Linked DNA regions of Homo sapiens: region 2 is linked to region 1. The links come from fine-mapping of genetic effects on gene expression. A gene starts in region 1. The other region holds a variant in brackets. All regions are shown on one strand. Distances are from middle to middle.

Region 1 (5,379 bases):
CTGGACATAGCGGTGGCGGCACACGCCTGTAGTCTAACTACTCAGGATGCTGAAACTAAAGGATCACTTGAGCCCAAGCGTTTGAGGTTGTAGTAAGCTATAATAGTGCCACTGCACTCCAGCCTGGGTGACAGAGCAAGACCCCATCTCTAAAACAAACAAACCATAAATGCATAAATTTAAAATAAATGTGAAGTCAACCAACTATTTTAAAATAAAATAAAATGTGTGACTCCTGATAATCTATGCTGTCCTGACCATAAAACAGGAAGTTAACATTTTAGAACCCCTAAAATAAAATGCCATTCAAACACAGCCACATTTCAGTGAAACCAGCCACATTTTAAAGGAATCAGAAAATCCCTTTCCATTACAATGCAACTAGAAGGCCTGCATAAGTGGAGGGCCCTTCTAACAGAATTCCACAGTTCCCCAACCCAGAATTCCCGAATTATTTACACTTTCCCATAATTAACACCCTTATCTTTTTTAATATGCAGGTTTGGTTGTTTTAACTGAAAGCATATAACTTAAATAGTGAACCAAAATAACCCAAACTCTTATTCAGCACATCTCACAGAATACACATTTTCAATATTCCAGATTAGCAGGATGGAGAGTTCAGGAGAGAGATCAAAATTTAAATCTGTCAGTGACGACCACACACAGCAGCAGACTGCAAGGTTCTTCTCAATAATGCAAAACATCTTTCATCTATGAATTTTCCCAGTTTTCATGAATTTAAATATCTACAGAAATGTTATAAAAGCTTTAAAATTCCTAAATCCCAGTGCTACTCTATTCCCTATTATTCCAGGACCATTTCCAAAACCAAAGCTACCAGAACAGCTTAGAAATCATTAGGCGGGGTTGAAAAATAGACTCTTAGATTTAAATATACGGTTTTGGTGGGTTTGGTTGTTTCTTTAGGGTTTTTTGTTGTTTTTGTTTTGTTTTGTTTTTTGTTTTGGGGTTTTGTTTGTTTGTTGTTTTTTGAGACAGAGTCTCGCTCTGTCGCCCAGGCTGGAGGTTACTGGCACAATCTCGGCTCACTGCAACCTCTGCCTCCCGGGTTCAAGCGATTCTCCTACCTCAGCCTCCCGAGTAGCTGGGATTATAGGCACCAACCACCGCTCCCGGCTAATTTTTGTATTTGTAGTAGAGATAGGGTTTCTCTATGTTGGCCAGGCTGGTCTCGAACTCCTGGCCTCAGGTGATCTGCCCGCCTTGGCCTCCCAAAGAGCTGGGATTACAGGTGTGAGCCACAGCCCCCGGCCTGTTTTGTTTTTAATTCATACTTTTGTGGACACAAGAACGCATATTTGGTGCAGACTGGCTCCAAGGACAGGATATCTGAAATTATTTGAACTGAAACAATATAGTTGTGCCAATAAAGACAGAAAAGACTAAAGACAATATAAAGCTTGTCATTTAAATGTTTTTTAAAAAATATCTTTCGTACCGTGGTTTTCTTAAAACGACTACTTTATCTACACTAATCATCTGGACCTCTGATGCCCAACCGAGACGAAAGTGCTGAGTGATGACCAGGGGTCGGGTAGCTTGGTCCACAAGAAAAAGAGAAATGTTTTCATCTTGAATTCTTTAGATCCCGACCCCTCCGCGCAGAGTTCAGCGGGCGAGGGCGAGGGGCGTCCTGGGCAGGGGGCGCCCCTCATCCAGCCTAGGCTCCAGTCACGTACGTGCACGCAACTGTCAAAGCTCAGCCCAAGGAGCAACTCTCCGCATCTGTGCATTTCATCCTGAGTCAAGCCCCATAAAAATTGGAATACGTAAAAATGGGCAAAAATTGAACATTTAAAATACAGCAGTGAAAAGGGAGGAGTGCCTGCTCCGGAAATGCTCTAAGCGTGGTTCATCAACACTCCCTGAAGAGCGGACCACGGAGATGCTCCGAGGCTCCGCCATCCCGCACGCAGGACAAAGGTGCTGAGAATGAGGCGCGCTGGTCCTGCACCCTCTGCCGAGAGCCGGAAGCCAGGGGCGCGCCGGGGCCGGTCGGGCACGTGCAGGGGGCTCTCCGGCCGCCGCGCTGCCCCGAAGCCGGCCCTGGGGACTCGCGGCTGCGCGGACCGAGCTCGCGAAGGGGACCAGGCTCGCGGAGGGGCCGCAGCGGCCCCAAGGATGGCGCAGGAAGACCCCCCACGCAAGACAGCCGGTCGCGGGGGTCAGGGGCGGCTCCTCCCGGGCCCGGCCCCGCCCGACTGACCTGTGACGCTGGCCCGGGTGACGCGCTGCACCACGGCCTTCATGGCGGCGGCTGGGGCGAGTGGGGCGGCGCCGCGCTGCGTCCGGCCTCGCGACTCTGAGGGCGGCTCCGCAGCCGGCGCCCTCTGGAGGTGACACCCGGAAGCGCGCCCAACTGGCCGGTCCGACTCGGTCGGCTGCTACCCACCCCACGTCGGCCACGCCCACTCTCGGCCTGGCGATAGGCCCACCCACTCATAGATTGACTCCGCCTATGCCTGCCACGCCCACCTGCTGCCCAACCGTAACCCCGCCCGTCATTGAAAAGCCCAGTCCCCACGCTCGGCCCTGCCCCATCCACATCTGGGTCCCGCCAGAGCCCTTTGATCCCCCCATCCCGGGCCCAGCCCCTACCCAGTGCCCAGAACCCACTCTGCCCCGAAGGTAGTCTCTATGCTGGTTTTTTTCTCCCACATACCCGAACCTAAGAACCCGTCATCACTAAGCCTTTAAATTCAGCCTGAATCCTATTTCTAATTGTATTCCTCTTTCCTCTTCCACTCCTCTGCACGCAGATCCTCCCAAATTCTTCTTCCTTGTCTTCCTGCCTCAGTGGCTTTTCAGATACCACATACAAAAGGATCTGCTGCCTAAAATAGCCATTTACCTATCTCACTATTAATTCGACTTAGCCATGTCATGATAATAAATAGGTATGTGATTCTAGAATTCTAATTTCTCATGTAATATAAATGCTACTAATTGGCCCCCTCACTGGGTTGTTAGATTTAAATGAACCAAACCACGTAAAAGTGCTTAGATGGCAGCAAAGGGCTGTACAACTATTACCCCAACAAATTATTATCATTGCTAAAAATAATTCCATCTCAGCAGTCTTCACCTTAAAGGTGACTAATAGCATTGGTGGGCGTAGAAAAGGCACTGAAATTGAGAAGAAACCCTCACTTGCCCAGAAAAGACTACAAACTAGTGTGCTTGTTTGTTAAATACTGAATACTAAATTGCCTTAATAACGTTGTCAAAGTTAACATAACCAGTAACAAGACATCATGTGCCTCCTGATATTGCACTGGGAAGGACACAACATCAATCTTGTGGTATTTCTGCCAAATAATGTATAACCTGAATCCAATCATGATGAAACATAGGACAAAAATAAATTGAGGAACATTCTACAAAATAACCAGGTAGGATTCCGAGAATTAAGGAGGATTTTTTTTTTTTTTTTTTTTGAGATGCAGTTTTGCTCTTGTGGCCCAGGCTGAAGTGCAATGGTGTGATCTTGGCTATCCACAACTTCTGCCTCCTGGGTTCAAGCAATTCTTCTGCCTCAACCTCCTGAGTAGCTGGGATTACAAGCATGCGCCGCCACGCCCGGCTAATTTTGTATTTTTATTAAAGATGAGATTTCTCCATGTTGGTCAGGCTGGTCTCGAACTCCCGACCTCAGGTGATCTGCCCGCTTTGGCCTCCCAAAGTGCTGGGATTACAGGCATGAGCCACTGCGCCCAGCCGTGGACTTTTTAAAAGACAGGAAAACTACCTGTAATCCCAGCACTTTGGGAGGTCAAGGTGGGCGGATCATTGGAGGTCAGGAGTTCGAGGCCTGCCTGGCCAACATGGTGAAACCCCGTCTCTACTAAAAATACAAAAATTAGCCAGGCATGGCAGCGCATGCCTGTAATCCCAGCTACTCGGGAGGCTGAGGCAAGAAAATTGCTTGAACCCGGGAGGCGGAGGTTACGGTGAGCCGATATCGTGCCACTGCACTCCAGCCTGGGTGACAAAGCAAGACTCTGTCTCAAAAAAAAAAAAAAAAAAAAAAAAGACAGGAAAACTAAATTAACCTGGGTGGTATCCTGGCCAGAAAAATCAAGAAAAGGAAAAGCTTATTATTGGAACAACTGGTAAAATTTGAGTTTTTGAAAAATCAGCAGGTCTCAATATTTTGATCACAGGATCCCTTTACATTCTTAAAAATTATTGGGCACAAAGTATAGCTTTTGTTTAGGTGGATTATATCTAAAAATGTTTACTGTTTTTAACTAAGAGAAATAGTTAACATGGATTTATCAATGCATTTAAAAATAGCAATAATAAATCCCCTACATATGAATATCAGAGCAATGAAGTCACTATATGTCACGGAGCCCCTGGAAAACTCCATTGTGCACTCCTGAAAGAATAAGACTAAAAAAGGGAAAATTGGGCTGGTCGTGGTGGTTCACGCCTGTAATTCCAGCACTTTGGGAGGCTGAGGCAGGTGGATCACTTGAGGTCAGGAGTTCAAGACCAGCCTGGCCAACATGGTGAAACCCCATCTCTACTAAAAATACAAAAATTAGCCAGGCGTGATGGTGGGCACCTATAATCCCAGCTACTTGGGAGGCTGAGGCACAGGAATCACTTGAAACCGAGAGGCGGAGGTTGCAGTGAGCCAGGATCACTGCCACTGCACTCCAGCCTGGGTGACAAAGTAAACCTGTGTCTCAAAAAAAAAAAAAAAAGTTAACATACTTAAAATGGAATTCAAAATGTTCACCCCTATGGTACAATAAAGACTTTGGCCTTTGTTAATTCTGGGTTTCTGGCATGGAGCTTTAAAAATTCTTGGAATTTCTCAAGAGACAGGAGTATCTTTGTTATTCATGAGCTCCTTGATTATTCCTGAGTTTACTAACAAGACAATTCAGATTGGGAGCTGGTCACTGGAAAGACCAATAGTGACTGGATGTCTGAGCCAGCCCAACCTGTGGGAGGGGTAGAAGACAGAGATTGAGTTCAACCTGTGGCCAATGATTCAATCAGTCATGCTTACATGATGAAATCCCAGGAAAGACTCTGGACATTGAAGCTTCATTGAGCTTCCTGGTTGCTGAACACATTGATGTGCTGGGAGGGTAATGGCCCTGATTCCGCAGGGAGAAAGCACAGAGGCTCTGTGTTTGGTACTCTCGCAGACCTTGCCTAACATATCTCATTTGACTGGTCCTAATTTGTATTATTTATAATAAAACTATAAATGATAATTACAGCACTTTCCTCAGTTCCATGAGTGATTCTAGTGCATTATCAACCCTAGGGAGTCATGGATACTCCTGACTGTGTAGCCAGTTGGTCTGAAGTGCAAGTGGTTTGGGGACACCCAAG
Region 2 (5,379 bases), 100 kb before region 1:
TTCCTGACCTCAGGTGATCTACCCGCCTCAGCCTCCCAAAGTGCTGGGATTACAGGCATGAGCCACCGCACCTGGCCCTCAATTTTTCTATTACAAGAAAAGCTGGCAGAAAACAACAAACAATGTTATTCACTGACTAACTTCTCTTCATTTACATAAAAGTCATATAAACAAATGTTCCCTCCCTTCCCATCCACCACCAACCACCACAATAAAGAGAAATACAAGGTCAAAAAGAAAAGCAAAGGATAATTTTGTTGGCCGGGTGCAGTGGCTTACGCCTGTAATCCCAGCATTTTGGGAAGCCGAGGCGGGTGGATCACTGGAGGTCAGGAGTTGGAGACCAGCCTTGCCCACATGGTGAAACCCCATCTCTACTAAAAAGACAAAAAAATTAGCCAGGCGTGGTGACACGCGCCTGTAATCCCAGCTACTCGGGAGGCTGAGGCAGGAGAATCGCTTGAACCCAGGAGGTGGAGTGAGTGAGCTGAGATTGTGCCACTGCACTCCAGCCTGGGAGACAGAGCAAGACTCTGTCTCAAAAAAAAAAAAAAAAAAAAATCCATGTCCTGTTTCTAGAAAATGTCCAAATGATGTACAAGTAGCATATAGCAAAATAAAAGATAACTGATGTATTTTAATAAGAGTGCTGATTAATTCACATGCAGCTCTATCCTGTTTGGCAGAAAGATTTTTCAGGGATGATTTCATAAAAAGTAAACATAATTTATAGGCGTATGGTGCCAAGTGCTAGGAGCCAAGGTTCAGAGCCTCAGCTCTCCTTCCAGGCAGTCAGTGGGGCTCCTCCTGACTCCAGCCCAGATGGCTCTGCCTTTAGTGCATCCCTTTGAGCTACTGACCTCAGCAACAACTCAATCAGTGCCATAGCTAGCAGGCATTTGTCTTCTTCCCTCAGTGAGTGGATCCATTCATGGTGGCTTGTACTAGCCTGATGAAACCAGTTAACCTTGTCATAAAGGCAGAGTAAAATGACCTCTTCTCCCCCTAGCCTGCCCCAAACCTGCAGATAAAAGGCATTCCCCCTGGCAAATAGCCAAAGGAAGCAGAGATACAGAGAGCTTGTGGCAAATATGAATGGAGATGCTACGTTCCAGAGACTTTTCTCTAAGAAGTTAGAAACCATTTCATTACCTCCATCACTTACAAACAAGGCATCAAATCAGCAAACGTCAAACTCCTTGTCTTAGGTATCATGTTAATATTTAATTACACATGAAAGATGGAGATCATTAAGTCCTTGCATTGGCCAGTGTGTACACTAAAGTGAAGAATAAACTATGGAGGAGAACACAGTTTGGGGTGTGGCTCTCACATCATTGGTAATCAGTAGACAATAAAAGTATGTTCTTAGATACATGCTTTATTGTGCCCTAAGTTGTAAGTAAGGTGCTAATTTTTTTTTCCTTTTACATAGGCACAACCTCTTTGGTCTCTGCCTCTTTTCATGGCACAGACACCAAAAGGTAAGTAAGTGGCAGCCTGAAAACTGGCTTTATGCTGACCAGGTGTGAGATTCTCCAAGCAGTAGGGGCTAAGGCTGGGGAGTAGGAGTAATGCATGCACCCCAGATGCAGGCAACAAGGTGGGACATTGTCTAGCCCTGCACTGTCCAATATGGTAGCCACTAGCCAGGTGTGGCTATTTAAATTTTTCTTTTCTTAATTTTATTTTTGATTCAGAGGGTACATGTGTAGGTTTGTTACCTGGGTATATTGTGTGATGCTGAGGTTTATGGTACAGATGATCTCATCACCCAGGTCATGAGCATAGTACCCAATAGGTAGTTTTTCAGCCCACATCCCCTTCCCTCCTTTCCCGCTCTAGTAGTCTCCAGTGTCTGCTGTTCCCATCTTTACTTCCATGTGTACTCAGTGTTTAGCTCCCACTTCTTAGTGAGAAGCAGTATTTGGTTTTCCACTCCTGCATTAATTCACTTAGGATAATGGCCTCCAGCTGCATCCATGTTGCTGCAAAGGACATGATTTTGTTCTTTTTATGGCTACAGAGCATTCCATGGGGTATATGTACCATATTTTCTTTATGTGTCCACTGCTGATGGGCACTTAGATTATTTCATGTCTTTGCTAGAATGAATAGCACTGTGATGAACATATAAGTACATGTGTCTTTTTGGTAGAACAATCTATTTTCACTTAGGTATGTACATACTTAGTAATGGGATTGCTGGGTTGAATGATATTAATAGTTCTAAGTTCTTTGAGAAATCTCCAAACTGCTTTCCACAGTGGCTGTACTAATTTACATTCCCACAAATAAGGTATAAGCATTTTCTTTTCTCTACAGCTTTGCCAGCTTCTGCTCATTTTTAATTTTAAAAATTGCCATTTAGACTGATGTGAGATGGTATCTCATTGTGGTTTTGATTTGCATTTATCTGATGATTAGTGACAACAAGCATTTTTCCACGTTTGTTGGCCATGCATATGACTTCTTTTGAGCAGTGTCTGTTCATGTCCTTTGCCCATGTTAAAATTCTGCCCAAAGCAATTTATAGATTCAATGCCATTTCTATCAAAATACCAATGTCATTTTTCATAAAAACAGAAAAAACTATCCTAAAATTTATAGGAAACCAAAAAAGAGCCCAAGTAGCCAAAGCAATCCTAAGCAAAAAGAACAAAGCCAGAGGCATCACATTACCTGACATTAAACTATAGTATAAGGCTACAGTAACCAAAACAGCATGATACTGGTACAAAAGCAGACACACAGACTAATGTAACAGAATACAGAACCCACAAATAAGGCTGCACACCTACAACCATCTGATCTTCAACAAAGGTGACAAAAATAAGCAATGGGGAAAGCACTCCCTATTTAATAAAGGATGCTGGGATAACTGACTCGCTATATGTAGAAGAATGAAACTGGACCCCTACCTTTCACCATATGCAAAAATTAACTCAAGATGGATTAAGATTTAAATGTAAGACCTCGAACTATAAAAATACTGAAAGAAAAACCTAGGAAATACCCTCTTGGCATAAGCTTTGCTAGAGAATTTGGCTAGGTCCCCAAATGCAATTGCAGCAAAAACAAAAATTAACAAGTGGAACCTAATTAAACTAAAGAGCTTCTGCACAGTGAAAGAAATTATCCATAGAGTAAACAGATAACCTATAGAATGGGAGAAAATATTTGGAAACTATGCATCTGACAAAGGTCTAAAATCCAAAATCTACAAGAAATTTTTAAAAAATCAACAAGACAAAAACAAATAATTCAATTTTTTACATGGGTAAAATTATTTTTTAATTTTTTTTTTTTTTTTTT[A/TA]GAGACAGGGTCTTGCTCTGTCACCCAGGCTGAAATGCAGTGGTGTGATCACAGCTCATTGCAGTCTTGAACTCCTGGGCTCAAGTGATCCTCCCACCTCAGCCTCCTAAGTAGCTGGGAGTACAGACACACACCACCACGCCTGGCTTATTTTTGTTTTTCGTAGAGACAAGGTCTCGCTAAGTTGCCCCAGGCTGGTCTTTAACTCTTGGCCTCAAGTAATCCTCCTGCCCCAGCCTCCCAAGTAGTTAGGACTGACTACAGGCATGGGCCACCATACCCGGCTTAAATTTAAACTTATGAAAAAATTTTTAATTAAAATTTAAGTTCCACAGTCTAACTGCATTTAGAGTGCTCATTAGTCACAAGTGGCTAGTGTCCAATGTACTGGACAGTGAGATGTAAAATATTTGCAACACTGCAAAAAATTCTATTGGACAGTGCTGGTCTAGATAGTTTTAAAACAAATAATAAAGTCATTATGGTTTTTATTGTCCACATGCACTGTAATTTTAAACAATGTTAGTGATAAAATACCAACATCCTTCCTGCCCCCATTGACCCTCTCCATATGCCACTGTCCAAATAAACCTGCCTACTGAGACAGAGGATAACTAATCCAAGGGCAAACTAAAGCCTCAGTTGCATCCCTGCTCAAATGAATGCTAAAAATGAAAACAACAAGAAACCGGTGTATATTTCATTCCCTTTTTCTGTCCCTAACAGAGGTACCCTAAAGAAAGTCTATAGGTGATTCTATGAAAATCTAGAGAGAAAACTGATAAAGAATTTTAAATCACCAAACTCCATATACCCCCTTAAAATTTCACATAACACACATACAAAGGGGGCGGGCAGTGGAGGGCAGAGCACACCATTCTTCACCTCTCAACTGTATCTGTTCACATGGGAGGGAAAAGGCAACTCTGGCCTCAGACTCCCATTCTGGTAAAGTCCACTTCCCAAATACAAGCCTAAAATAGAACCAGCTTCTTTATTCCGAAAACGAATGGAAAAACGGGGCCGTGGAGAGCTGTTCAGCTCTCTATTACGGTCCACGCATTAAACTTTAACACAGCTATAGTCTTTTTCCTAGCACGAGTATTAGAAATGCACACAATGTTTCTAATTTCAATTCCCATCATATTCTGCAATGCTTTCAGAGGGTTCTGAATTTTTTATTTCTCATTGGGTCATGCCTTCCTGGCCACTGCTAGCTCCACCTGCTAACACATACCTCCCCACCCCCCACAGGCCACCCCAGGGAATGAGGATCAGAGCAAGGACTTCCTGCTTCCTACTCAATATTCTGCGGGCATTTTCTCCCAGGTACACGGGTTACCCAATTAAACACCACATTCCTGGAAGGAGATCTTGGCTCTTATCATTTCTGTGAATGCTTCATAGCTAAAAAACCAAACACTAGAAGATAAAATGAGAGCAGACAACAAAAATAACACTTGGCAATCTAGTATAGAAAGATGGGTCGTTCCCGGCAAGGGACCTTCCAGATATCCAAAAGGTAATAGTTTATGCCCCCAAAGTGTTACGCTGTAGTCCGCTGACATTATGTAGGAAAGCCGCAGGGTCACCCTGTCTCAGGACTGTTGCATGTGCTGCTCCTTCTCCCTGGAGTGCTCTTCCCATCCCACTTCACCTCATTACACCCTTTTCCTTAGCTCAGCTTCTCTTCCTCAGGGAAGAGTTCCTGTACCCTGCATGAATCTAGGTTCACACTCCTCTGACACTTTGTACTTACATTTCATGGCACTTATCACAGGTTATAATTAATACTTATTTGTAGAATTATTTCAAAAATGTCTGCCTGATCCCAAGTCCGAAGACTCAGTGAGGAGAGGGTCTGTGTCAGTTTTGTTCATCATGGTATCCCAAATGCCTAGTGCGTGGCATAGTAGGTAAATGATAATATTTGATAGGTGAAAAAATTGATTAGTGAATGAATAAACATCTTCTGAGAACCAAGGAACTATGTTCTTATACTGACATAACTTTAGCTTCAAATATAGATGGACCATGCATGGGTTTTATTAATTAAAAGAAATA

Direction of the effects. Alleles are on the strand shown, and positions count from the first base shown. SD is a standard deviation of normalised expression in the study named.
In carriers of allele A in region 2, the expression in subcutaneous fat of the gene that starts at base 2,292 in region 1 tends to be higher than with TA alone (small effect, 0.25 SD a copy in FUSION).

What was found. PIP is the estimated chance that this variant, and not a neighbour inherited with it, causes the effect. A credible set is the group of variants that fine-mapping cannot tell apart.
Region 2: its variant is the best candidate, but not a certain one, in a credible set for the expression of DTD1 in subcutaneous fat (FUSION, PIP 0.59).

Annotation. Positions count from the first base shown.
Region 1 is chr20:18,584,967-18,590,345 of GRCh38, reverse strand. DTD1 (D-aminoacyl-tRNA deacylase 1) reads right to left here and starts at 2,292. Exons shown (of 6, transcript NM_080820.6): 1 at 2,231-2,292. The coding sequence starts at 2,273. It overlaps LOC124904878 (a long non-coding RNA gene), which reads left to right and starts at 2,881. Exons shown (of 3, transcript XR_007067547.1): 1 at 2,881-2,921. RefSeq lists enhancers at 1,756-1,815, 1,656-2,155, 4,827-5,121 and a silencer at 1,926-2,465.
Region 2 is chr20:18,688,073-18,693,451 of GRCh38, reverse strand. The region is part of intron 4 of DTD1 (D-aminoacyl-tRNA deacylase 1); the gene reads right to left. It overlaps DTD1-AS1 (DTD1 antisense RNA 1), which reads left to right. Exons shown (of 4, transcript NR_109955.1): 2 at 1,436-1,484. Among named protein-coding and RNA genes, the nearest start is that of DTD1-AS1, 7.9 kb to the left of the region's middle. The variant A/TA (reference allele first, on the strand shown) is at 3,316.